Linked DNA regions of Homo sapiens: all the other regions are linked to region 1. Evidence: fine-mapped expression QTL. Tissue or cell type: whole blood. Region 1 holds a variant in brackets; each other region holds the start of a gene. All regions are shown on one strand. Distances are between the middles of the regions.

What was found. PIP is the estimated chance that this variant, and not a neighbour inherited with it, causes the effect.
Region 2: it holds the start of MBD4, and the variant in region 1 is fine-mapped to the expression of MBD4 in whole blood (TOPMed, PIP above 0.99).
Region 3: PLXND1 starts here. The variant in region 1 is fine-mapped to the expression of PLXND1 in whole blood (TOPMed, PIP above 0.99).

Annotation. Positions count from the first base shown.
Region 1 is chr3:129,570,642-129,578,741 of GRCh38, forward strand. PLXND1 (plexin D1) reads right to left here. Exons shown (of 36, transcript NM_015103.3): 9 at 7,688-7,792; 10 at 5,125-5,214; 11 at 4,828-4,921; 12 at 3,695-3,849; 13 at 2,953-3,104; 14 at 2,201-2,300; 15 at 1,968-2,107; 16 at 1,036-1,203; 17 at 868-958; 18 at 399-662; 19 at 145-294. Among named protein-coding and RNA genes, the nearest start is that of H1-8, 32 kb to the left of the region's middle. RefSeq lists enhancers at 2,415-3,140, 6,046-6,772. The variant G/A (reference allele first, on the strand shown) is at 4,760.
Region 2 is chr3:129,435,398-129,443,497 of GRCh38, forward strand. It overlaps MBD4 (methyl-CpG binding domain 4, DNA glycosylase), which reads right to left and starts at 4,551. Exons shown (of 8, transcript NM_001276270.2): 1 at 4,333-4,551; 2 at 2,323-2,553; 3 at 1,064-1,911. The coding sequence starts at 4,436. It overlaps IFT122 (intraflagellar transport 122), which reads left to right and starts at 4,827. Exons shown (of 30, transcript NM_052989.3): 1 at 4,827-4,974. The coding sequence starts at 4,934. RefSeq lists enhancers at 4,381-4,460, 4,551-4,690, 4,891-5,100, 5,251-5,300, 5,331-5,380 and 1 more.
Region 3 is chr3:129,603,099-129,611,198 of GRCh38, forward strand. PLXND1 (plexin D1) reads right to left here and starts at 3,578. Exons shown (of 36, transcript NM_015103.3): 1 at 2,231-3,578. The coding sequence starts at 3,541. It overlaps LOC124909431 (a long non-coding RNA gene), which reads right to left. Exons shown (of 2, transcript XR_007096079.1): 2 at 6,780-7,256. RefSeq lists enhancers at 1-829, 1,822-2,814, 3,807-4,799, 4,800-5,790 and silencers at 108-402, 3,537-3,596, 3,747-3,906.

The DNA of each region.
Region 1 (8,100 bases):
GGATGTAAAGCTCTGCTTTGCTGGACTGAGCTGTTGAGCGTGAAAACGCTCAGTGAATTCAGGTGCTGGGTGAGGGGCAGATGCTTGGCAGATGGGCCAGGGGTGGGGCCAGGTCTGCCCTGCTCCGGCGCCCCATCCACTCACTGTGATGGGCAGCTGCCCCACGGCCGCGCCCAGGGACTCGTTGACCGAGCAGTGGATGATTCTGTCAGAGACAATCTGGATGTCGCAGCTTACTTGGCCTATCTTGACCCGGTACTCGTGACTCTGGAGCCCCAGGCTGTCCTGCTCCTTCTGTGGGTGCAAAGGGGGAGGATGCTCATGGGGAAGTGCTCCCGAGGCCCACAGCTGAGGCTGGCTCGCTTGCCCCCGCCTACCCCGGCCCCTTTGGTGCTCACGTGGATAACGAGGGTGAGAGGCTCCCCGGGGTGGTGCTTGATCCACTTCTCCCTCTTGGCCGTAGAGAACTGTGGGTTGGGGAGGTAGTCCAGGCGGAACCTGCTGCCCCGCTGTGCCTCCTCGGGGTCCAGTAGCTCCTCAGCCACAGCCACCTCGTCTGCGTAGGCCCGCCCATTGATGAAGAAGTCCACTGGCGCTGATGCGTTGCTCAGGGCCCCGGGGGACGGGCAGGTGATGAGGGTGGAGTTGAGAACCTTGCAGAGCTGGTGCAGGAGAGCCAGGGGCCCAGGCCGGGATGCAGGATGGACAGATGGGCATGGAGAAACGGTGGGGAGTGGGGTTTGAGGAGACACAGAGGCAGAGGGAGGAAGAGGGGACAGAGATGCAGTGGGAGGAGGCCTGGTCAGTTAGGGCCCTGGCTGTGCCTGGGCCACCCCCTCCCACCCATCAGGCCCCCGAATGCCTCACCGTGGGCTCCCGGCCAATGTGGTGGACGGCCATGGACACATTCTGCACCATGTGGAAACGCTCACCAGCCACTGTGATGGTCCTGCCGCCACTGCGGGGGACAGCAAAACCTATCAGTGCACCTGCAGCCCCAGAGAGCCTGGGGGAAGGGCGGGGTGCCAGTCTCACCTGACAGGGCTGCGGCGGGGACTGATGGCCGTGATGACCGGGTTCTGCATGTACCAGAAGGTGAGGTTGCCGTGCACGCAGCCCCGACGCTCGAAGCGCACACACACAGGCACCGGAGCCGGCAGGGCCCCCTCAGGCATGGTGCAGGCGATGCTGGTATCTGTGCGCCTGGGGGGAGCAGCAGGTTATCAGCAGGGCCTGCCTTCTGCTGCTCACCCACCGCCAATGCCCCTGAGACCTGGGGCACAAGTCCACGCACTTGGCCTGGGGTTCAAGGCCTCCTTGACTGGTCCCAACTCATCTTCTGCCCAGTTAGTGCCCAGCTGTTTCCTTACACTTCCAAATTCCGCCCCATCCCACCTCCTCCAGGAAGCCTTCCCAGGTCTTCTCTCCCGCCTCCAACCCTGGTGAAGTCTCTCTCCCCAGATCCCTGAAGGCACTGACTTTTCTCCCAATCCTAGCCCCACTGGATGTTCCTACTTCCCGTGGGTATGTCTGCCCTTCCCTTGAGGTCTATGTTGTGCTCCTCTTGGTGTCCCAGCAATGCCCATTAGTGGGGTCTGGTACACAATAAGTGCATAATAAAGACAAAGGTGTTTCGCCAACAGACTCCAACCACACCCCTGCCACTCACCACACCCCTGGGCCAGCCAGAAGATCTGTGTGTGTGCAATCAACACCATTCTCATTACAGCTATCACTTATGGAGCAACTACTGTATACCTGGCACAAAGCCCTTCTTCCAATTACTGGTACTATTCTTACCAGCTGAGGAAACTGAGGCTCAGAGAGGAGAAGGGGCTTGGCTTAGGGGACACAGCCAATGAAGACCCAAGAGAGGCTTGGCTCAAGGATGTCACCTCCAGCCCGCCAGCCCCCAAGCCCATTGATTTCTCTGGGCTGGAAGGGATGGGCCAGGCCCAGAGGCTTACATCAGCTCCGTGCAGGGGTCTGTGTCGTTCACCAGGACCTGGAGCTCGGAGCCTACATGGAGGTCATTCCCATGGATGGTGATCCTGGTGCCCCCGGCCTTGGGGCCCATGGTAGGCTCCAGGGAGTGGACCAGGGGCAGCTGTGGGAGGAAGGCAGGCGTTTGGGCCTCGGGCCAGCCCCCGGGAGTGTGCGTGCTGGGCGGGCCGGACAGTGGGCTGCAGCCCCCCCTTACCACGTAGGAGAAGCGGTCCCGGGACTTGCCCTCCTTAGAGGCGTTCACGGTCACCACACCTGAGAGTGGTCCTGGGGCTGGCCCTGTGACACACACGATCCTGAGGGGAGGTGCTGTGGTCAGCCAGCGGTCCTTGGCCCCCACGGCCACCCTAGAGCCAGGCTCAGGGATCGCCCCATTCCACGCCATGCCACACTTCCAATGCCTTCTATGTATAATTTACCCCATCAGTTTCCCACAGTTCTGCAACTATAAGACACGGGGGTGGGACAAAAGGGTCTCTGATCATGAGAACGTCTGCTGGGCTGGTAGATGACGGCTCTTCCACACGCCTGATGCACGGCCTCCCAAAAGGAAAGCCAGTTCAGTCTCTGCTCACGCGTATTTCCTACGGCCCCTCTGGGCCAGTCACAGATCTCTAAACCATGCCAGTAGCCCCAGCCTTTTTAATTGCAAATGATTTTCCTCAGAGCAAGGCTTAGGTGGAAGAAGGGCTGTGCTAGGGCAGCCTGTGAGGGCTTCCCAGAGGAGTGGGCATCAGAGCCAGAGCTGGAGGGATAAAGCAGATGCCCCAAGCAGAAACGGCAGGATGTGTGGTGGGAATGGCTTCGGCACAGGCCTGGAGGCCACGAAGCAACAGTCTTCCAGAAAGCAGCAGAGTGAGGACAGAGGATGGGGAGGGAGGAGTGAGGAGGACAGAGCAGAGGCTGGCACTGCTGGAGAAGGTAGGTGGGGGCACCGTGGCTACTCACTCCTCCGACACCGTGTATCTGTCAGGCAGTGGCTCACAGGCCACACCACCAATCCACACGCCGTGGGCCACGTCACTGAGCCGCCGGCCCAGGTTCCTTCCTCGGATGGTCAGCAGGGTCCCACCGTCCAACGGGCCACTCAGGGGCTCAATCTGCCAGGTGACCCGAGAGAGGGGCGAATGGGATCTGAGGCTGCAGGCCAGCAGGCTTCTGCCCACAGTCACAGGCACCCAGCAGGGCACAGCCGTGCAGACCCACTGCTTAGAGGAAGGTCTGGAGGCTCAGGTGGGGCTGGGACTGTGGCCACTTGGCAGGTCACTGTGCTGGCAAGGAGGATGTGGGTGTGCATTACTGAGCCCACGTGGGCCTGGGGACGCTACTTAGGGGGTCTCCTGGAGGATGCTGAGGTCAGCTTCCAGGAGCAATGTTTGGCCATGTCATTGGTGGCTTTAGTGATCATGGTATCCCCTGAAACTAACAACATTCAGCCCTCGGTGTCTCCTCCACGCCACACTTCCAATGCCTTCTATAATTTATTCATTTCCTTATTTATTACTGTCCACCTCCCCCACTGAAACATCAGCTCTGTGAGGCAGAGCACTTCCTTTTGTTCACAGGTGATACTGCACCCATGTGTCGGTGTATGTGCCGTTTGGGTCCCCAAGAAGTGGGACCCTCGAGGGCACTGCGCATGCGCCGTGCCGGAGTGCGGGTGCCACGTGCCTCCACTGGGCATGCTTACCGCGTGGATCTCGGGGGCGGGGCAGGTGCCAGCCATGGGCTGCAGAGGCCCCCGCAGGCGGCAGCCATCACTCCACATGCACAGGTGACCCAGGTCTTCGCGGCCCAGGCACTGGGAACAGTCGGGGCTGCCCATGGCACAGTTATAGACCATGACTGGGGAGACACGGGGCAGCTCGGTCAGCCCCGCTCTGCGGTGCATGCCCCAACACCGCTGTGCCCTCCACACACAACAACTGTCAAGAGGTCTGCGCCCCATCATTGTGGTGCCCCACCCAGAGGAAGTCCTGATTCTGGGGGTCAGGATCCCCTGAGGTTCTTAGCCCCTTCCCCAAACCCCTGGGGCCTGTGCTGAGCACAGTGCAGCCCCTGCTTCATTGATTTCCTTCCCCTCACAGAGACTCCAGCTGGGAGCCTCAGGTCAGCCTCACTTTACAGAGAAGAGGCTGACGCTCAGACAGGAGGGACTCGCCTGAGCTCACGAGGCCTGTGGGTGGTAAAGCCAGATCCCACCCAGACCTCAGTGGGTCTGATCAACCCCGGCGGGGCCCTAGGATGCTGGGGATCCCTGAGTAATGTGGACTATGAGTACTTTGGGGCTTCAAACCCTCCAAGTAGCCCAAAGAGGAGGGCAGGGAGGGTTCTCCAGGACCTTGGGTATGCAGGGCCGTTCTGGGACCTTCATGGTGGGAATCTGGAGGGCACCACGTCCACCAGGGATGCCTGAGACTCCCCATGAACAGAGGAGCCCCTGGAGAGTGGACCCAACACAGACAGTCACAGCAACTGCACAGCTGCCACGCGAGGGGAGCTGACCACACCCCAGATGCCACGCTCAAGGTTGGGCGAGCCCTGGCTCATCAGGTCCTTACAAGCTCTGCAGAGGGACTGTGTCCTGTTTCCTATGGGGACGATCAGGCCCAGGAAGGCAGGGGAAACTATGCACGGAGACCCCAAGGCCTGGAGCCTGGCATGGCATGGCAGGGCTGGGATATGAGGCTGTGTGTGTGCTGGAGAACAATGGGGTGGGACATCTGCGGCTTTGGGGCAACCACTGGAATGAGTC[G/A]CACAAGGCTGAGCCCCACCCACTGCACTGAGGCCCCGAGGCCATGTGGGGCGGGTGGGGGTGCCCACCTGTCATGGGCTCAGGGCTGTCCAGGAATCGGGCTGGCCGCCCCTTTAGTTGGAGGCTGAGCGGGAACACCTGGCTCTTCCGGGTCGTGTGCAGCTGCAAAAGGGCAGAAAAGAGCATAGGGGGCATGGGCAATGCCTGGGGCTCTGCTGGGGATGGGTGTCATGGAGGCAGATGAAGTTGGGGCTGCTGGGGATGGGGGAACCAGAAGGTAGAGAGAGGCAGGGTGGGGTGAGGGGTACAGCATCTGGACTTAACGCAGGCCCGCCCTCCGCCCATGCTGGAGTCACCCCACTCACCACCACCTGGTCACAGCGTACAACAGACTCATTCACCCACACAGCCTCGAAGATCTCCTCCAGCCCAAAACTACACTCCAGGGCTGCACCCTGTGGGAAACAGGGAGTGGGAGGCGGGTTTGAGGAGAACCAAGCCAGCATGCATTGCCCTCTAACTCCAGCAGGACACCACGGGCTCCTGCTGGGAAAGGTGGGCTTGGTCGAACTGTCAGGCCTTTGCATGGGCTGTCCCGTCCCCCAAAATCCCCTTCCTGGCCATCACGTCCAATGTTTGAGGGAGGCAAGCAGTGCAGGAATGCCAAGAACTTTGGCCTCATGCGCTCAGCACCACTAAAAGCCTCTCCAGCATCCCCAGTGATCTAACCCAGGGGCCTTGTATTCAGCTCCTAAGGCTCCACTCCCAGCGGGGTTCCCCTGCTCTTCGAGCCTTCCCACCTCCCATCCTGCCCTACCAGGCCCTGCTCAGACGTGCCCCAACGCCCAACACGGCCAGACTCTCCTGCCCCGGCCTTTGCCTGAGCCCTCCCCTCGCCTGAACACCTGTCTTCCTTTCTACCACCCAGCAAAGCTCAACACAGCCTTCAGGATCCAGCTTAAAAGCCCCCTGTTCTGAAGCCTTCCCAGATGCTGCCCTCAAATCAAAGGGGTGTGCCTCACTTGATCCTCATTCATTCCCTCAGCAGCAACTATTCAGGTGTCTGCTGGGGCACTACGAAGCTCCTAGAGCTGCCCCCATCCCTGTGTGCCAGGCATCACCCTTAGCCTCTTGCCTGGCTGCTTACCTGTCCCCTCGCCAACCGGGGACGGTCAGGGCTCGGCCGCTCTGACACCACCCCCAAGGGCAGCAGAAAGCAGCTGGAAGAGCCCTGGCCTGGGTTCAAACCCCACCTCTGCATGTCCCAGCTATGTGACCTCATGCAAGTTGACCCCTTCTCTGAGGCTTGGTTTTCCTACCTGGACAATGGGAATAGGGTTGCTGGGAAAACTGGAGATTGTGTACCTCAAGGGGCCGCACACGGTAGGGGCCTAATATGTGCTTGCTATCATTAGTATGCAGGAGGTATCCAATAATGTTTGTGTCATGAGGCTCAGTTCCCCAGGCTCATCTGGCCTTCTCAGGAGCAGCACCAATACATATTTGCTGAGTAAACAGACTCAGGTTTTGTGTATTACGCCAAGCACCCAGCCAGCTGCGTGGCAGAGCTTCCTGTTTATGTCCCTGTGGCTGGCAGATGTGACACCCTGAGGAGAATGCAGGTCAACCTCCCTGCTTCTGGGGTCCCAGCCCGGAAGCTAACACAGGAAAGTGGCTGCTGACGGGGCCAAAAGCCCGTTTTGTCCCCTGCCATGCTGAGCTGGAGATGGGTCCCTCCTCTTAGTCCTCAGCCACCTCAGAACAGCACACCCGGCCCGTCCCAGAGCTCCCCAGGGTGTAGGCTCAGCAAACAGGCCCCCACCGCTGGGCCTGACTTCAGTGTTCTAGGAGCAGGCCCTGGGGAGCAGGAGGGCAGGCGCCCCTGCAGCTCGGTCAGAGTGGAGGCTGCCCCACCACACAGCTGGGAAGAATCGGCAGGACTCAAGTCAGGCTCACACCTCCCCATCCCAGGCGCCCACGGCCCAGGGGCAGAGCCATCCTGCCCACCCACCCAGCCCCCTGGCTGATCCTGGAGGCGCTTGCCCCAACTCCTGCAGGGTGGGGCTTGAGGGCTGAGGGCAGGCCCCACCCTAGCCCTCCCAGAGCTCCAGCCCCTGCCACGAGGCTTCCCGACACATCCCAGATGCCCGGCACGTGGCCACCACGTGTGACAGCTCTCACGGGCCTCAGCTCCTCCATGGAAGTAACAGATGGCGAGTTCCAGGGAGGTGGGGAGGGGGGTGGCTGGCACGCCTCCAGGACTCGTCAACGCTTCCCACCCAGGACGCGCCTCCAGGAGGGGTCCAGAAAGGAGCTGCGTCCCCAACCCCCAGCCCAGATGGTGGGGGCGGGGCTAGTTGCAAAGACGAGCACTGGTTGGGGAGTCCAGAGCTAAGCACAAGTCCAGCCCTGTGTTGTGTGATCTGGCGTCATCTACTTTTCCTTCCTGGGCCTCATCTTCCCCATCTGGACAATGGGGAATGGGGTGGCCAAGGGGTTCTCTGGTCATTCTGCAGGGAAGACATGGAAGCCACCCACGGGGCAGTGGGCTCGGCGGTGGGTGGGTGTGTCCAGGGTCACAGCTCAGGCTAAGGGAGGACAGGATAGGGCAGCGTCCACCCTCCGGCTGTGGCACGGGGCAGGAGAGCCTGGGGGCACTGGCTTTCCCTTGGCAGCTGTTGGCCCCCAGCTGTCCCCCTTGGCCTGGCCCTCACCACTTCCTCTTCTTGCAGCCCCGTGCAGTCAGAGTGGGGCTTCCTCATGCAGAAGGTGGAAACTCAGAGAAAGAAAAGCAAAGCCCACACAGGTGCGAAAGCACTGCAGTGGGCCCAGAGCAGGGGTCACACCAGGACATGGGGGCAGTTAGTGGCCTGCGTGCTCCCCGGCCTCCTCCTGGCCCCACCCGGCGCTGGCCTGGCTTCTACTTACCTGGAAAAAGGCAGTGTTGGCCAGAGGCACCAGGATGTTCTGGGAGCCACCCGTAGGCACGGGTGCCAGGGGTGAGAGCAGGGTCCGGGGGCAGTCCTGAGGGCTCTGCAGAGGAAACAGAAGGAGAGGGTGACACAGGGGCATTTCAGAGAAGAGGCAGGAGGACTCACTGCACCCCAGCCTGCCTGGTTCAGTCCTGCCTTCCTGAGGAGAAAACACTAGTCATTCAGTCCTAACGGCCACCAGCCCCACCCCGTGCCTCCCACTCGCCACCACCCTCCATCCTATGGGCAGGTCGCATTGGCCCTGTTTAAAGATGAGGAAGGTGGGCACAGGCAGATGGCATAACCCGCCCAGTGGTGGGGCCAATTTCCTCCATGAGTGCTCCCTGGCCTCAGACGAGGCTGGGAGGC
Region 2 (8,100 bases), 140 kb before region 1:
TTCATCTCATGTTGAGAACTAGACTCTTACCACAAAAAAAAGTTTTTAATATTTGCCCATTTTGCTAGCAATAAATCTACATAAACCTCAAAGCTTTCTTCAAGAAGCTCAGTGTCTAGGACACAGACTTGAAGAATTCTTATGCAGTTCCTAGGTATATATGGCCATCTTGTGTTAAAGGCAGAGAAACTCCAGGCACAGAAAAGACATAAAATCATGGGTAGAACTGGGAACAAGAATCAAACCTAATCTCCTGCTTCACAAATTTCTCCAGGCTGTTTCCCCACAGGAGTTTAAGTAAAATTATTATTCTTTAAAGGAGTTATTCATTATACCATAATGGCATAATGAATAACTAATACAGGGCTGCTCAAAAGGTCTCCCTTTTATCTCTTATTCACTGAGGTATTATAAAGACAAAACTGCTAAGTTCTGAATTCTGTATTAAGAGCATATTACAAATAATAGATGAACTATGTGATTATACTTTTGAATTATTTAGAGCTCTAAAGCATTTTAGAGAAGCATTACATTAAAATAGAAGATAAAAATGACTATGATATATACAAAATTAAATTGGAAGTCACACTTAGTAGTAAGTATCAGGAGGGGTGTGAAGACACCAACTATTCTCCACTCATTTATGTATATAAGAAGCCTTCCCTAAATTTTTCACAAGTGAAGGCTTTTAATTTTCCTTCAAGTTTTAAGATTACTGGCTGGAAAGAGGATGGGAAGAAGGGAAAGCACTGCTGAGGAGGAGAGTCCCAGCTGCTGCACCAGGGAGAGACGATGGCAGCTGTTAATAGTAATACTCTCCTTTGCCATGGCATCACGACAGCAGTCAGCCGATTTTCTCTCTGCCATAGGAAACTGCTTGAATATCAGTTTAAGATAAAGTATTAGGATCAACTGGTATCTCATATTTGGCCCTATTTCTTGGCTCTATTTTCACATCTTAACCATGTATGGGCACGAATACAAGATGCAGCATTATAAATTTCTCATCACATAATGTTTAATAGTGCTTGAAAGCACTGGATACCTTGAAATATTTTCTCACCAGTGAAGTCTTTCCTGGTTGGTGAGCAGTTGTTGTCCATTTCAGAGCCACGTTTTAAAATGTCAGTATGCAAATGTTCTTTCCTTTCCACAACTTCTACTTTTGTTCCGATTTCTTCAGATTCTAAAAAGGTATCCTCATACTTCTCGTTGTGTTCTGAGTCTTTGGCTGAACAAAATTTGTTTATGATGCCAGAAGTTTTTTGTTCAGAACAAAAATTTGATCCTGAACTCAATGATCTTTCTTTTTTTTTTACAAGGCTGTTTTCTTCACTGGTCACACTGAGGGTCTCACCACATGCTCCAGCATCAGAAATGCAGACAGTTCTATCAAGCTGACTTTTTTGTGCAACAGGTTCACTTTCAGCATCTGCTTTATTACACACAGATTCTCTTTTGCTATCACTTTGAACAAAACCTGAACAGCTCTTCCTACATCCTTTTTTAGTTTTCTTAATTGGGATTCCTTTCAAAATAGTCACCTTTCCTTTGGGCTTTCTAACCTTTCTGAAGTTAACATCATCAACACCCTCATCTTCTTTCAAAAGCAAATGAGTGGAAGTAAAGTTAGAGAGTCCTCTGCTCTCCTGCAACTCTGAACTACTACTTGGCGGCATAAACACATCCTTTTTGCACTTGCTTCGGGTCCTGAGGTTCCAGTTTGAATTGTTACTTTGGTTTTGTAGATGGGATGTCAGGGCTGCCATGCTGCAGTCTTTATATCTTGACTTGATACCCCTTTTAGAAAGTACAGTAAAATCAAAATCTTCTGGCTTAAGAGAAGTCTCTCCATTTTTGTGAAGATAATTAGCAAGTGAACTTTTGGATCTGAACTTCAGTCCTTGTGGGCTAGAAAATGATATTAAAGGAAACTTACTGCTAGTAAATAGAAGGGACTTTTAAAAGAACTGGACCACATTTCAGATTTCTAATTAATTTCCAAATGTTGCCATAGGTATCTGTCATTTAAAAATGAAAAAGAGTGATAAATGGCACTTTTAAATGGTTTCCTCTATGACAATATAAATTTATAAATATAACTAAAATGCAACCTACCCGTTAACCATTCACAGAAGGAGGGACAAAATGTATGTAATTTTCCCCAAATCACTTGATGTAATTAATAGCAACATTGAAAGAATAGAATCTGCAATGGTTTTATGGTAAAAATATAAAGAAGCTAAGATTCCTGCTATGCTCCCACTACCTGCCCAGACAAAATCATTTGGCTGTACTATCTTTACCATCTTATATGCTTACCTGATAAAGTACACATCAAATCTTCCTGCTGTCTTCCCAAATAACCTTTGCTTCACAACTCTTTCCCATCCACATGGGACAGACTTACGGCATTCTGTTCCTGCAGTAGCACCAAACTGAGCAGAAGCGATGGGTTCTTGTAGCAAGGGATTACATTCACTGCTTCTTTTTATCATCATTTGTTCCTCATCTTCTCCCACTCTTTCCAATTCCATAGCAACATCTTCTTTGCTGGAAAAACAAAGTCTAAGTGATTAACTTATTTAAAATTTATCTTCCACTGCCTACTCAGTTTTAATCCATGACAATGCAGGAACCACATAGATTATCCATATTAAAATGAGGGAGATTAAAGTCAGTGTGGACCAGTCTTGTGCTATGGGAGTATTTTCCTGTCTTCCAAAAGCTTCCCATATCCTCTAGCACAGGTTAAAAGGTGTTGGAAATCTCTGCACAACAAAAAAGTCAAGCTAGAAACTTTTCGGATTAATCACTGAGTAGGGCTATTATAAAGATTTCTGGGGGCACTTACCATAAATTTGAGAATATGAACCAATAGCTAAGCTCTTAAGCACCAGAAAATGCTTAAATAAATCAGTGAGTTACACTGTCTTCTCTGCAAATAAATGAGGTAAAAGTTTTACATAATGTAAAATTTCTGGGAGAGAGTGTGTATCACTTTCATCAGATGTAATCCTCCAGAAGGTAAATAATTTGATACAGAATTTTTGAATCTTCTTCATTCTTGATCCTCATGGTAACCTTGTAGGTACAATAAGGTTTACTCTCAATTTATTGATAAAATTGAGTGACAGGTTAAATTACTTGCAGAACAGACACGAGAACCCAAGTCTACCAAATCTTGGTCTAATACTTCTCCCCCATACTGTTATTGAAAAAAGCTGGCAAGGCAAGGTGGCTCATTCCTGTAATGCTAGCACTTTGGGAGGAGGAAGTGGGAAGATCACCTGATCCCAAGAGTTTGAGACCAGCCTGGAGAGCACAGTGAGATCCTCGTCTTTGCAAAAAATGAAAAAAAAAACCCAAAAAAACAAAAAAAAACAAGCAACCGGGCGTGGTGGAGCATACCTGTGGTCCCAGCTACTAAGGAGGCCGGGGTAGGAGGACTGCTTAAGTCCGGCAGGTCAAGGCTTCAGGGAGCTATGATTGTGCCACTGCACTCCAGCCTGGGTGACAGAGCGAGACCTCATCTCAAAAAAAAACCCACTAAACTAAAACTTCATTAAAGTTCCAATGTGTCTTCTATGATGAAAACATACTTTTAAAATTAAAAAAAAAATTTCAGTAAAGTGTATCCTAATCACTAAACCACAGATTGTAAAAGGTGGATGGGTCTAGAGAGATCATTTAACCCAAGTTCTTTTCTACAAATAGGGAAACTGCAAGAACTAGAATTAGAATCAAGGTTTTCTGATGTAATTTGGGGTAAAATAATTTTGAGGAGCTGGATGGATCTTATGAAATGATATTGTTTACAATTTTAGAGATAAAAATACTGAAGCCTGGTGGAATCAGCACAAACTCTTAAGAGACTGGGGCTCAAATTCCAGCTCTACCAGCTGTAAGTTTAGCAGCAAGTTACTTAACATCTCAAAGTCTCGGTAAAAGACTCTGTAAAAAGAAGGTGATGCCTCTTTCAAAGTAGTTCTTAGTATTAAATTTTGAAAAAAGTAGGTAAATCTTAACCTCCTATCACACACGTAGTCTAATGACTTCCTAGGATCCTCCAACCCCAAGGGGACCTCTTTCACAAAACCTCCCGGCTCCCCCCCAGTCTCCCTAGTCATCTTAGATGAGGAAGTCGAGCGCACCCCAGGGCTGATCGCACAGGAAGAGCACCTGGGCTCCAGACCCTAGTAACTAAACCCGTGGGCTTCGAGGTTTCTGCCGACCCTCTGTCAAAGGTTAGAAAGGCCCACACACTGTCCACTCTCCCGATACCATTTTACAGGTGGTGAAACTGAGGCCCAAAAGGGGACAGTAACTTACCGGAGGTCATTCGGCGGGTCTGGGACTAGGCGCTCACTAGAGGTGACGGTGGGGGCAGCTCCGCGGTCCCCCAGACTCAGACTCTCCAGCCCAGTCGTGCCCATCGAGCAGGGTCCGGCTGCAGCAACGAGCCCAGCGCCGCAACGCCCAGGGTGTGGGGCGGAGTAAGATGTGAAACCTCTTCAGCTCACGGCACCGGGCTGCAACCGAGGTCTGAATGTTGCGAAAGCGCCCCAGACGCCGCCGCTGCTTTCCGGCCGCCCCCTCGGCTACAGCCGCCATTTCCACGCTCCACCAATCAAATCCATTCTCGAGGAAGACGCACCGCCCCCACACGCCCCGACCAATCGCTCGCGCTCTGGTTGCGCTGGCGCCTTAGGGGCTCCAGTGCCACCATTGCTTTTGCTGCTTTTCTGGCTTTCCCTTTCGGACATGCGCGCTCGGAGCAAGGCGCCCTCGCACTCAGCTTACCGCGCATGTACGTTGCCAGGGGTAACGCAGGTAGCCAAAGTGGCTTGTGGAGTGGCGACCGTTAGTGAGGCGGTTGCTGAGACAGACGCTGAGGCGGGTAGGAGGAGCCCGAGCCGTAAGGGAAGCCGTGATGAGGGCCGTGTTGACGTGGAGAGATAAAGCCGAGCACTGGTGAGGAGCGGGGCGGTTCGCGAAGAGCAGGAGGTCGAGTCCTCGCGGGGAGTGCGCGAGCCGCTGCAGCGTGTTTGAGGGGGGCAGCGGGCTTGCTGCCTGGGCCGAGGGCACTGAACCCCGGCCTGGGAGACTGCAGGGTCGCCCTCCCGCCCCTTGGCGGTTGGAGAAACTCCCGAGGGTTGGAGAGCGGCAAAGGGAGGTGCCGCGCCTGAGGTGGTGGCGGGTGGAGGCGGCTCTTCCCTCACGGTCTGGCCCTGTCGCTGCCTTGGATTCATCTCACACCCACGAGACAGCACGAAGCTGCTCAAGCTTCACAGTTCTTGCCACATCCACATAGTACCCATACTCTTGTTTTCTTGACGTTTTTCTCTAAATTGTCTCATTTATTTTAATTATGATTTCACATTTTACAAGGAAACTTTATTACTCCATTTATGAAAACCAGTGTCACTTGCTCTAAATGTTAAGATAAAATCAGCGTCGCTTGCTCTAAGTGTAAAAGTAAAACTTAAAGTAGGGAGAAACAAAACTGAACAAGCTGTAGCTAGCTATTGTTGCTAGGGAGCCTTTAAACCTGAGATCTCGTTTCTCTAAAACTGGAGATGGGCAGGTATGATCAGAAAGGTGCTCAAAATGAGCACCAAACACAAGCTCTCCTAATTGGGAAGTCTGAAAAAGAACTGAAGGGGAATGACTTTGTCACCTTTTGATTCAGTTATTTAATGTCCTATTCCATTGTTATCGCCTAAATCTATAACATAGCAGTCTGTTTTGTCATATTCTTACTTATGGGATAGGTCTTGGCCTGACTTTGAAAATCATTCAGCATTGTTGTGAAGCCTCTGTTCTGGCCACTGGAGCAGGTTACTTGTCTTTGGTTCTGTCCCTTCTGAGATCTTTCTCTGTGTAAAGCATGCCGTCTCTCCTCATCTCACACGGAAATCCTGAACATCCTTCAAGGCTCACGTTGGAGACGGGTCCTCTCTTTTGTGTTCGGCACTAGTGGTAGCTGACACTATGTGCCAGGTGCTGGCTAAGCACTTCATATCCTTTATCTCGTTGTGTCTTCACCACTCTCTAAGGTAGGTACTATAATTTCCTCTATTTTATGTATGAGGAAACTGAAGCCCAGAGAGGGTGGATAATTTGCCAGCGTCACACAGTGAGGGGTGGAACCAGCTTTCAAGCTCAGGTCTTCCTCACTCCAACGTCAACGCTCTCAGCCACTACATTAATTTTTCCTTATGTTACAGACGTGGCAAACTCAAATGTCTGCAGGAGACAGGCAGGTAACATAAATGGGAGATGTTTATTTGCATCTTCAACACTAGGAATTGTATGTTTTCCCTAGGAATAGTCTTGTATTCTGTACCCCATTTTTCTTGAAACACAGCCGTATCAGTGAATCTTTCATTTGTACTTTTAATAGAGATTTGAGTTTTAAAAAATCATTTTACTTTTAACTTTATTATAAACGTACCTATAGCACAAGCTGATGATAGCTGGCAACTGAACATTTGGCTTCAATGTCAGAGTAATAGAGTGTGGCAAACTGCAGAGCTCATGCTCGGCCTAAAAGGGGCAGCTGCTGCTCAGCTCCTGCCAATTACCACCATGCAGGAATTTGGCCTAGTGTGCTCAGCTCTTCCTGTTTTTACCAGAAGCTAGGAATCTGGGTTTTTATGTGAAATGGCCTAATTTTTAAATGTTAGCATCCACTCTGAAAAAAAAACAAAACACCGTGTGGGCCAAATAAAACATTTGCTGGCCGAATGCAGCCTGATTTGCTCTGTTTTCAACCCCTGGCACAGAATTTTGTTCATTTCTCTCTTGTGGTACTTCCAGAGTCTGTTGAGCATAAGAGTTAATTTTTTAAATCTGTTTAATTCAGAAGTCTAATAAACCCGTTAAAGGCAATGGCTATGTCTTACTCGTTTCCAAATTATTCTAGAGACAGGTCAGTGGTTGTTGTTACTATGGATAGTAATAAAATACTAGATATATATAAAACGAAATACTGTGGGTAGATGTATTCATACGTGAATGAATGATGAATAAAGATTGGTTTTCTGGTTTTTGGCCCATTACAGATTTGAGACAACCTATTAGGATAAGGGATGTAGGGGTTCTATAGACCATCAATCCTGATGGCTGCTAGATATACCAGCTGATAGCCCAGAATGAAAACAAAACAAAAAACTAAACAAAAAAAAAAAAGACAGTAGAACTAAAAAAATCCTAGATGTCAAAGATTAGTCCTCCACATCCAAATCAGCCATTGTCTCCCGGTCTGCTCCTTTGCTTCTATTTTAACCTTCACATAGCAGCAGGAACTCTGTTTTTTTAAGACCTGCTGCTGTGATCCTGTTACTCTACTTCTCATAAACCTAGAGTGATTCCCAATTACTTTCCATGTCAAGTCGTGCATTTTGCTAGAGGGTCCTCCTGACCCTCCTCCCCATCAGGCTTGCAACATTTAAATTTATACTTTTAGGTTGAGCTGAAAACTCTATTTTTCTACCCGAAGATCCTTCCCAAATGCTCCCTTATTCTATGAACTCCCTAGTTTTCTCCTTTAAATGCACAGCTCCAGGTTCATCTCAACCAGGATGTCTTATTAGGCTAGCCCACTGTATTCCAATCAGGCTAGCATCTGCTGTAACTCTCCATTCATGCCAGCTAGTATTTACTGAGTACTTGCTATAGGCCACATGTCCACATGTCTTTATAGGTGTTATCATGTTTAATCTCTACAACATGTGAGGTTGGAATTTTCATCTCATTTAAAGATGAAGAAATTGAGATTTAATGAGGTGACATAAGTTACCTAAGATTACAAAATGAGTAAGTGGGGCTGGGTCAGATGATGCAGGAATTGGAGAGGCACTGTGGGACATTGGTTTACAGTGAGGTGGGTGCAGGGTTGTCAGAGGACAATTTGCAGGATTCCTCTGTATCTCTGCAATGGAATCTGACAGTGTGTCTTCTGACAGTGTATCTCTTTTATAAAAAGAGGCAGGTGGAGAGAGAACCATCCTACAGTAGAATAGACTGCCTGCAAATGAGTGAGCTCCCAGCCCTGGAGTGTTCAAGCAGGGGCTAGATGGCCATCTATAAGGAATT
Region 3 (8,100 bases), 32 kb after region 1:
TGGGAGATACTGCCAAGTGGCACTGGCCTGTGCCCACAGCGGGCACGGCGAAGAGGAGAAGGGTGTGGAAAACACAGGGAGGGTGACCAAGGAAGGCCGCAGCCGGAATCTGTGGCCTTGGGGTGGGGAAGAGGCCCTTCGCCACTCTGTCCTGGGGCTGTGTCCCTGGAGAGGCCCTGTCCCCTTAGGTAGAGAAGCTCCAGCCCCCCTCAGCTGGGTGAGTCACTGCACCGAGGGAGCGGACCGTGGGAACCAGAATGGTTCTTGCCAGAGGGGGAGGGAACCCTGGGCTGGCCTAAGGAATCCCACAGATCAGCTTACACCAAAGGGCCGAGACACAGGGCCTGAAACTACTGGAGGAAGGCCCTCAGTCCACAGGACACTTCTCTCCATTCAGCGACTCCCCACTGAGACCCCCAGTGCCAAACACAGTTGCCTGCGAGATGAAGCTCTGGGGTGGAGATGGTGGATGAACCAACCATGGCACAGGGCAAGCAGCCCCACCACCCTTTGGACTGTCTGCCCTGCTCACCCACCGTGACCTTTACTTTCAGGGTGGCCGGCCAGATGGTGGGCAGTCGTGGGAGACCGACCTCGACCTTGGGAGAAGGAATCTGCATTTTCTCAAAGCCCCAGTGTTGGGCCCGCCCACAGAGGAATGGTTAATCTCATGAAATTCTTGTCACAGCCATGGAGAAGGGACAGGGTGGGGCCCCAAGGAAGGCTTGGGTCACCACAAGAAGGCTGAGTTCTGCATTTTGCTGATGGAGATGCAGCTTCCTAAGGGAATGGCAGGCAGTGGAGCTGAAGTGGGCTCGCCAGACTCAGATGGGTGGAGGGTGTGGGAAAGGCCCCAGTGTCATTCTGGGGCCTCATTCCTCAGGGTGAACTATGGGGATCAACAGACCCAGCTCCCAAAGCCAGTGTGAGGAGCAATCCCTTGCCATGAACTTCCTTTCAGGGAACCACACCAAGTCCCCTCCCGCACCCTTGTCATGTCAACACACATGCTGATTCCGTCAACCTGGCCCCCCTTGCTACTGCCCAACCCAGCCTCAGACACCTGGGCCCCATGCCTGCCTGTACTCCTCCTCATTCCCCACTGAGCCCCACGGCCCTCTCCTGCCCCCAAAACACCCCTGTTCACATCCCTCCATTCTCCTGGCCCTGGCATCTGCCCACCCCAGCTGCCTGGGACGCCCCCAAAACACACGCACTCTGAGATCCAAGTCCAGAAGGCAGCAAAGGCTGGGCATTAAAAACACAGATGCTGAGGCCAGACAGGCTGGATTCAAATCCACCTCTGCTAGTGCCCAACTGTGTGATCCTCAGCAAGTTGCTTAACCTCTCTGTGCCTGTTTCTTCATCTGTAAAATGTGATGAGAATAGAGGCTACCTGAGAGGGTTGTTCTGAGAACTGGGAATTGTGACATGTGATGCCCCTAGCTGGCACTCCACAAGTGCTATTGTTTACCCCAGACTCCCACACCTGGTACATACTAGGTGCTCAGGAAATATTTGCAGAATAGGTGAATAAAAGTTGGCCTCAGGCACACACCTGTTTGCCAACCATGCAGCCTCCTCAGAGTACCGACTCATGCCCAAATACCTGCGTCCCCTGCCACGCACATCCCACTGCACACCTAGCCCTGTCCCGTTGTACCAGTGTCTGTGCAGTACACCTGTCTGCCCTGTGCGTCTTCAGGCCCCAGCTTGCTGGCACACAAGTCCATGCAGACATCTGCAGGGCCCTGGTGCACACCTGTGTGCCTCCTTGCACACCTGCCACACCCATGCACCCATCACCAACGTGCAATGGTAACTCTGACAGGCTCACGCAGTGGCCCCAGAACACAACTTTGGTCAGGCATGCAGTCACTTACTGCGCCCTCAGCATGCACCTGTGACCCTCACGTGCATACCTGGGCTTTATGCGCACCTGGGTACCTGTGGCAACTTGGACCCCTCCCAGTACGCCTAGGTATGCGCGCCCATGAGCCGGCACTCACTTGAGTCCCTGCACATGCCCACCTGGGCCATACAGGCGCCAGTAGTACCCCTCGGGGGACACCTGTATTCTCGCGTGCACACCTGGGTTCCACGTACATCTGGATCTCTGCGCGCTCCCACCTGTGACCCACTCAGCTCACGACCCGCTCGGTTCCCGCCCGCCCCCGCCCCCGCCCCCGCCGCCGCCGCCGCCGCCGCCGCCGCCACCGCCCGGGTGTACCTGGATGTTGAGCTTGCGCTCACAGGCCGGTCCCGTGCCCTGCACCACGCTGTCGAGCACCGCCACCACGTCGGGCGCCGGTTCCACGAAGCAGGCGGTGCGCGCAGCTCGGATGGCGGCTCGCACGTCGGCGAAGCGGAAGGCGCAGAGTGCGGCCGGAGCAGCGCGGGCCGCGGGGGACCCCTGGGGCCGCTCGAAGACAGCAAAGAGCCGCTCCCGGGCTGGGAAGACCGACACCAGGCGGCTGTAGAGGTCGCCGCGGCCCGCGCCGCCCGCGCACTGCAAGCCCAACTGGATGTAGGACTCGGTGAGCTTCTTGGCGTCGCCGCCGGCGCCGTGGGGCAGGCAGATGCGCGCCAGCAGGCTCCGCGCCTGGCTCTCCTTGTCGCCCGCGCGCGCCTCGCTGTTGAGCGCCAGGTACGCGTAGGACTGTGCACCCGGCGGCGGGTCGGACGGGTGCAGGAAGGCGCTCACGAAGCCCAGCTTGTGCTGCTCCTTGGCGCCCTGCTTGATCTTGAGGATGTTGTCGTCGGAGGGGTTGAGGTCGAAGGTGAAGAGCTTGGCCAGGTCGCCGCGCGTGTCCAGGGAGCGGATGGCGATCTCGGGCGTGTTCTCGAAGCGGTGGTCCTCCAGGCTGCGGTTGCGCGGGAAGAAGGAGCTGCCGTAACCGGTGTACGTGGCGCCCACGAGCAGGCGGCTGCCCCCCGCGCCCGCGGCGGGAGGCAGAACTAGCCCCACGGTGGACGCGTTCGGGTGGTTGGCCGCCACGTTCAGCATGCTGGGGAACACCGTGACGGGCTCGGCGGGCGGCGCGGCGGGCGGGAAGCGCACGGCCACGGCCGAGATGTTGCCCCGGCGCCGCAGCTGGCAGAAGCCCTGGTAGATGGACCCGCACACGACTACCAGGCCCTGGCCGGGGTCCAGCTGCAGGATCTTGTTGTAGTTGTCCGTGAGGCGCCGCGGGTGCTCGCACGAGGCCTGCGGCAGCTGCGGAGCGTGACACAGCGGGCTGTCGGGCACCGGGCCCACGGCCGCCTCGGCCTCCAGGCTCAGGTTGGCGCCCGACAGCTGATAGAGGCGGTTGACGGCCGCCAGGTACACGGTCCCCGCCGCGCCGTCCAGGGCGAAGTTGTTGGTGGGCGTGGGCGAGGGGAACCGACGCTGGATCTCCAGGGCGCCGGCCCGCGCCGCCCCCAGGAGCAGCAGCAACAGCAGCGGCACCGGGCACCGCGGCGGCGTCTGGAACGGCGGGGGGCTGGCGGCGGCGGCCCGGGCGCTAAGGGGTGCGCCGCCCGCGGCGCGAGGAGCCATCCGGGCGTGCGCGGGCTGCGCGGCGCGGCGAGTGCATGGGGCGAGGCGCGGCCGGGAGCCGGGAGCCCGGAGGCGGCGGGAGGCGGGGGGCGGGCCCGGGCCGCGATGCGCTTCCTGCCCGCGCCAGCCGCCCCCGACCCCGGCGCCCGGGCCCGGGTCAGCCTCGCCGCGCAGCCCGGGGGCGGGGCGGGGGCGGCTCCGCTGCGGACACGCCCTCACTCCCCGCCCCGGCCCCGCCCGCCCCCGGGACCCCCGCCTGCCCCTGGCCGCCCTGGGCCACGCCCCGCCGTCCGCGGGTCCCGCCGCCCGCGCCCTCCAGGACCCGCCCGCGGCCCCAGGGTCCCTCCCCGTAGCCGCCGCCGCCGTCGCTCGCTCTCCTCGCTCTTTCCTCCCACTTGGCCGCTTGGCCTGCCTCGCTCGCGCCTGTTTTCTCTTTTCCGCCCTCTCCCCCACCCCGTCTCTCCCTCTCTCTGCGTCTCTCGGTCTCTGCGTCTCTCCGTCTCTGTCCCCACCCCAAACTCCGCGCGTGTGGCGCTTCTCCGGGTTCTGCCTCTGCTTCTCCTTCTCCCTCCGACTCCGCTTCGCTCTCCAGTCCCTGGCAGCCCCGCCCCCGGCCCTTTCTAGTCTCCTTCTCTCTCCTGCTCCGTTTTTCCGTCCCTGACGCTCGCTCCCTCTCTCCGTGGCTCCCTCTGCCTCCCCCTCGGACCCTCCGTCCCTCTCTCGGTCCCTCTGAGCTCCCCTTTCCTTCTCCCTCTGCCTTCCCGAACCCTGTGTCTCCCCTCCACACTCAGCCTCCCTCCACCACCTTTCTCAGGCACTGTCCAGGCCTTCGCTCCCCCGGTGCCGGCCAGTCGGGCCCCCCAGACCCCATAATCTGTCCCCCAAACCCCAGACCCATAAAAGGGATTTACAAGTGGCAGGGCCAGAGGGACCAGTGCTCAGGGTCAGATATATAAATGAGGAAAACATGGAGAGAGGAAATAGTTCCAGCCAGTGGCCCACAACCGATAGCCAGAGCAAGGCCTTGGTCCTGGAGCCCACAGTTGCCTCCTGTGGAGACCCAGCCGCACCCCCACCCCTGGCACCCCCGCCAGGCACTTTCCCTGACATCCTCCCAGGCTTAGTGGAAGATTAGTCCCACAAAAGCCGGCACTGGGCAGGGTTCTTGATCTCAAAAGCAGCGTTAGGGGCAGGCAGCCTGGTTCCAAGGTCACAGCCCTGTGAGGACCATGCGCCGTGGCTGTTTTGCGGGGGTGCTCACACAGGGCTAGCCCGTGCCAGACACTGTGCCAAGCACTTGCCATGTACGGGCTCTCTTTTTCCTCACAGATTCCCCCGAGGCGAGCGCTATTGGTAACCCATCTTCCAGATATGGAAACCAAGGCTGAGGGGAAGGGACTGGCCCAAGATGCACAGCTCATGAGGAGCAGAGCTACAGTGTTTGAAAGCAAAAGCCCTTCAGCTCCGACCTCTCAGAACGGGGCCTCCCATCAGACCCCCAGCTTCCACAGGGTGCCCGGTGGGCCTCACTCTGAGAGTAGCGGGACCTCATTTTCCTCTTTCCCACCCAACCAGGAAGGAAGGGCAGGGGTGTCTGTGCACCATGGGGCCGGCAGGAAAGGCTGGGCCTGCAGCCGCCCCCCACTTCCCTCAACACCCTCGCCTTCCTGCCATCCTGCCCGCCTTGTTCCAGACCCCTCAGCCCTGGTCTGGCCACTGCTTTGATGGCCGGGAGTGTTGAGCTGCAGGAAATTGGAGGCCCCCTCCCAGGCCCATCCACCCACCAAGAGCCACTCAGGGGACTGCCCGTGGGACTGTGTCCCTGTCTTCCTCTCTGGATGGAGAAGGCGCACATCGTGCCACCCGTGGGGGCCAACTGCAGAGCCCAGCAGGGGTGCATGGGGCCTGCCTCCATGCCCCTCCTCCTCACTCACATCCTCAGTGCCCCCACCCCAGTCCATCCGCTGGTCTCTCTGTCTTATCTCTCTCTCTCCTGCCCCCACCCATCTCTGTTCCTATCTGTCTTGCTCCTCCCGTTCACTCTCTTTGTCTCTCCTTCTCTCAGTGTCTTGCCCCCTTCCCTTTCCACTCTTCATCTGTCTCTCTGTGTCTCTATCTCTGTCTCTCTCTCTGTCTCCCTCCCTATCCCTCACCCCCACTCCCTCTCCAGCCCCTCCTCTCTTCCTTCCTGTCTCCCGCTCATCTGGTTCATCTTGCTGCATCCTGCAGCTCCCCCCACTGAGCCGTGAGGATAATGCTCAGTGTTGTCTTAGACCAGCCTGTGGTGATGATCCTGGGCACTTGGGACACAAGCTCCCTGCCAAGCTGAGCAGTGGGGTTTAGGAGCTCTCTAGGTGAAGGGTATTCGGGTCTGAGTATCCTCACATCAACTGGAGGTGAGAAGTGCTGTGTGGTCTTGTGCAAGGCACTCACCCTCTCTGAGCCTCAGTTTCCTCAACTGTAAAATGAGGACAATCGTAGCAGAACACCTGCCCCTGGGAGGGTGTGAGATGGAGAATATAACATAACAGGTGTCAAGCACAACAAGGCTCTTAGCAAACACCAGTTTCTCCCCGCCTTGTGGCAGTGAACCATGACCCCTGAAGCCCATGTTAGAGCCAGGAGTTGGGGTGGGGGGCATTGCAACTAAAGACCAGGGCTCCACCTCCTGTCCTGAGCCCCAATGTGGCTAGCAGAGCCACCAGACGGTGAGAGTGAATCCTGTGCCCAGCACTGCCCTACCAGATCTTACACCATCCTTGCAGCCAGCTGACTAGGCTGTGGTCAGCAAACCCATTTCACAGATGGGGAAACTGAGGGGCATTAGCAAGGTAAGGATTGAAACCCAGATCTGGCTCCACATCTTATGATTTCTCCCTTCTACCCATTAGCTGGGAGCACCATCAGGCCAGGATGGCTCATGGTGGCAGCCCCTATACCCCTGGCTGGGCAGAGGAGGTGCTGACAATTACTGGCTGAATGAATGAATAAAGGAAGGAACAAACCACACCTTCCCTGGCCTTACTAAGATGCAATGAGGTGTTCTTCCAGAGGGAATTTTGGAGGGAACCAAGGGGAGATGAAAGGTACTCAGGAGTGGGGATTAGGTGGGACCCAGCAATAACTAACTTGGAATGAACTAACCCAGAATAGCCAGACCTAGTTGGTTATTCACACTGCAATTTGGGCCTTTTTCAGTTTTTGTTCAAGTCTGATTATATCAAGGAAAAGGTCTTGGTTTGAGGCTAACATGTCTTTAATGACTGTAACATTTGTCACTGTCTCTTTTTAATAGAGAGAAGGTCTCAAACTCAGGGCTGTTGACATCAGCGTGCTAGAATGTACTGATAGCGCTTTGTTTTCTTTGTACTTGCCGTTACTTTCTGGTTTTGGCAAGTGCTACTGGTTTTCCATGTACAGTAATGATGTAAAGCTTCCTTGATAAATGCATTGATTGAAGTCCTTTAAAAGTGAGTTAAAGACAAATGTGAAATAGGTGATAATCCAGATGCCACCAAAATGCCTGAAATTTGGGAAATGTCCAGCAGTGCCTTTGAAGACGAGGACCTGGTGGCCGAGTCAGGGCAGTCTTGCTTGGGGCACGGTGGTCAACGGCTATGCTGGCTCGGAGAAGGCGGGCCTGGGCCTTCCACCCCACTGGGTGGGCTTCCCACCCTGTCCTGTCCATTCTCACCTCTGACTGCCCAGGGCAGAGCTGTGAGGAGACAGAGGAAATGTTTTTCTTCTTCAATTGGAAAAAATAACAGTGGGGCCAGGGTTGCGCTGGGAGGAGGGGGCTCCTGCCCTCCCGTCCCTTGGGCCTGGCCTCTGAGAACGTTTCCTTGCAGGAAATGCCCCTGCAAGGTTAATGCTTTAGAGCACCGCCTCAGCCACAGGAAGGTGCTGGAAACAAGAGTCCTAGGGACGGCTTGGCAATCCAGCCATGGGCCTAGGTGGTGCCGGGAGCCATCACTGCTGCTTCTCGGGGGCTGGACCCGTCTCATTTCCCCGTGGGAGCAACCCTGCGGGGGGGGTCTTAGCAACCCCCCTTTTTTTTAAATTATACTTTAAGTTCTAGGGTACATGTGCACAACGTGCAGGTTTGTTACGTTTGTATACAGGTGCCATGTTGGTGTGCCGCACCTATTAACTCGTCATTTACATTAGGTATATCTCCTAATGCTATCCCTCCCCCTCCCCCCACCCCACGACAGGCCCCAGTGTGTGATATTCCCCATCCTGTGTCCAAGTGTTCTCATTGTTCAGTTCCCACCTATGAGTGAGAACATGCAGTGTTGGTTTTCTGTCCTTGCGATAGTTTGCTCAGAATGATGGTTTCCAGCTTCATCCATGTCCCTACAAAGGACATGAACTCATCCTTTTTTATGGCTGCATAGTATTCCATGGTGTATATGTGCCACATTTTCTTAATCCAGTCTATCATTGATGGACCTTTGATCAACCCACTTTTGCAGATGGGGACACTTAAGGTCAGAGTGGTGTGCCACTGGCCTGCAGCTGCACAGCCTCCAGGCGTCCAGGCCCTGCTCTCAGCCGCT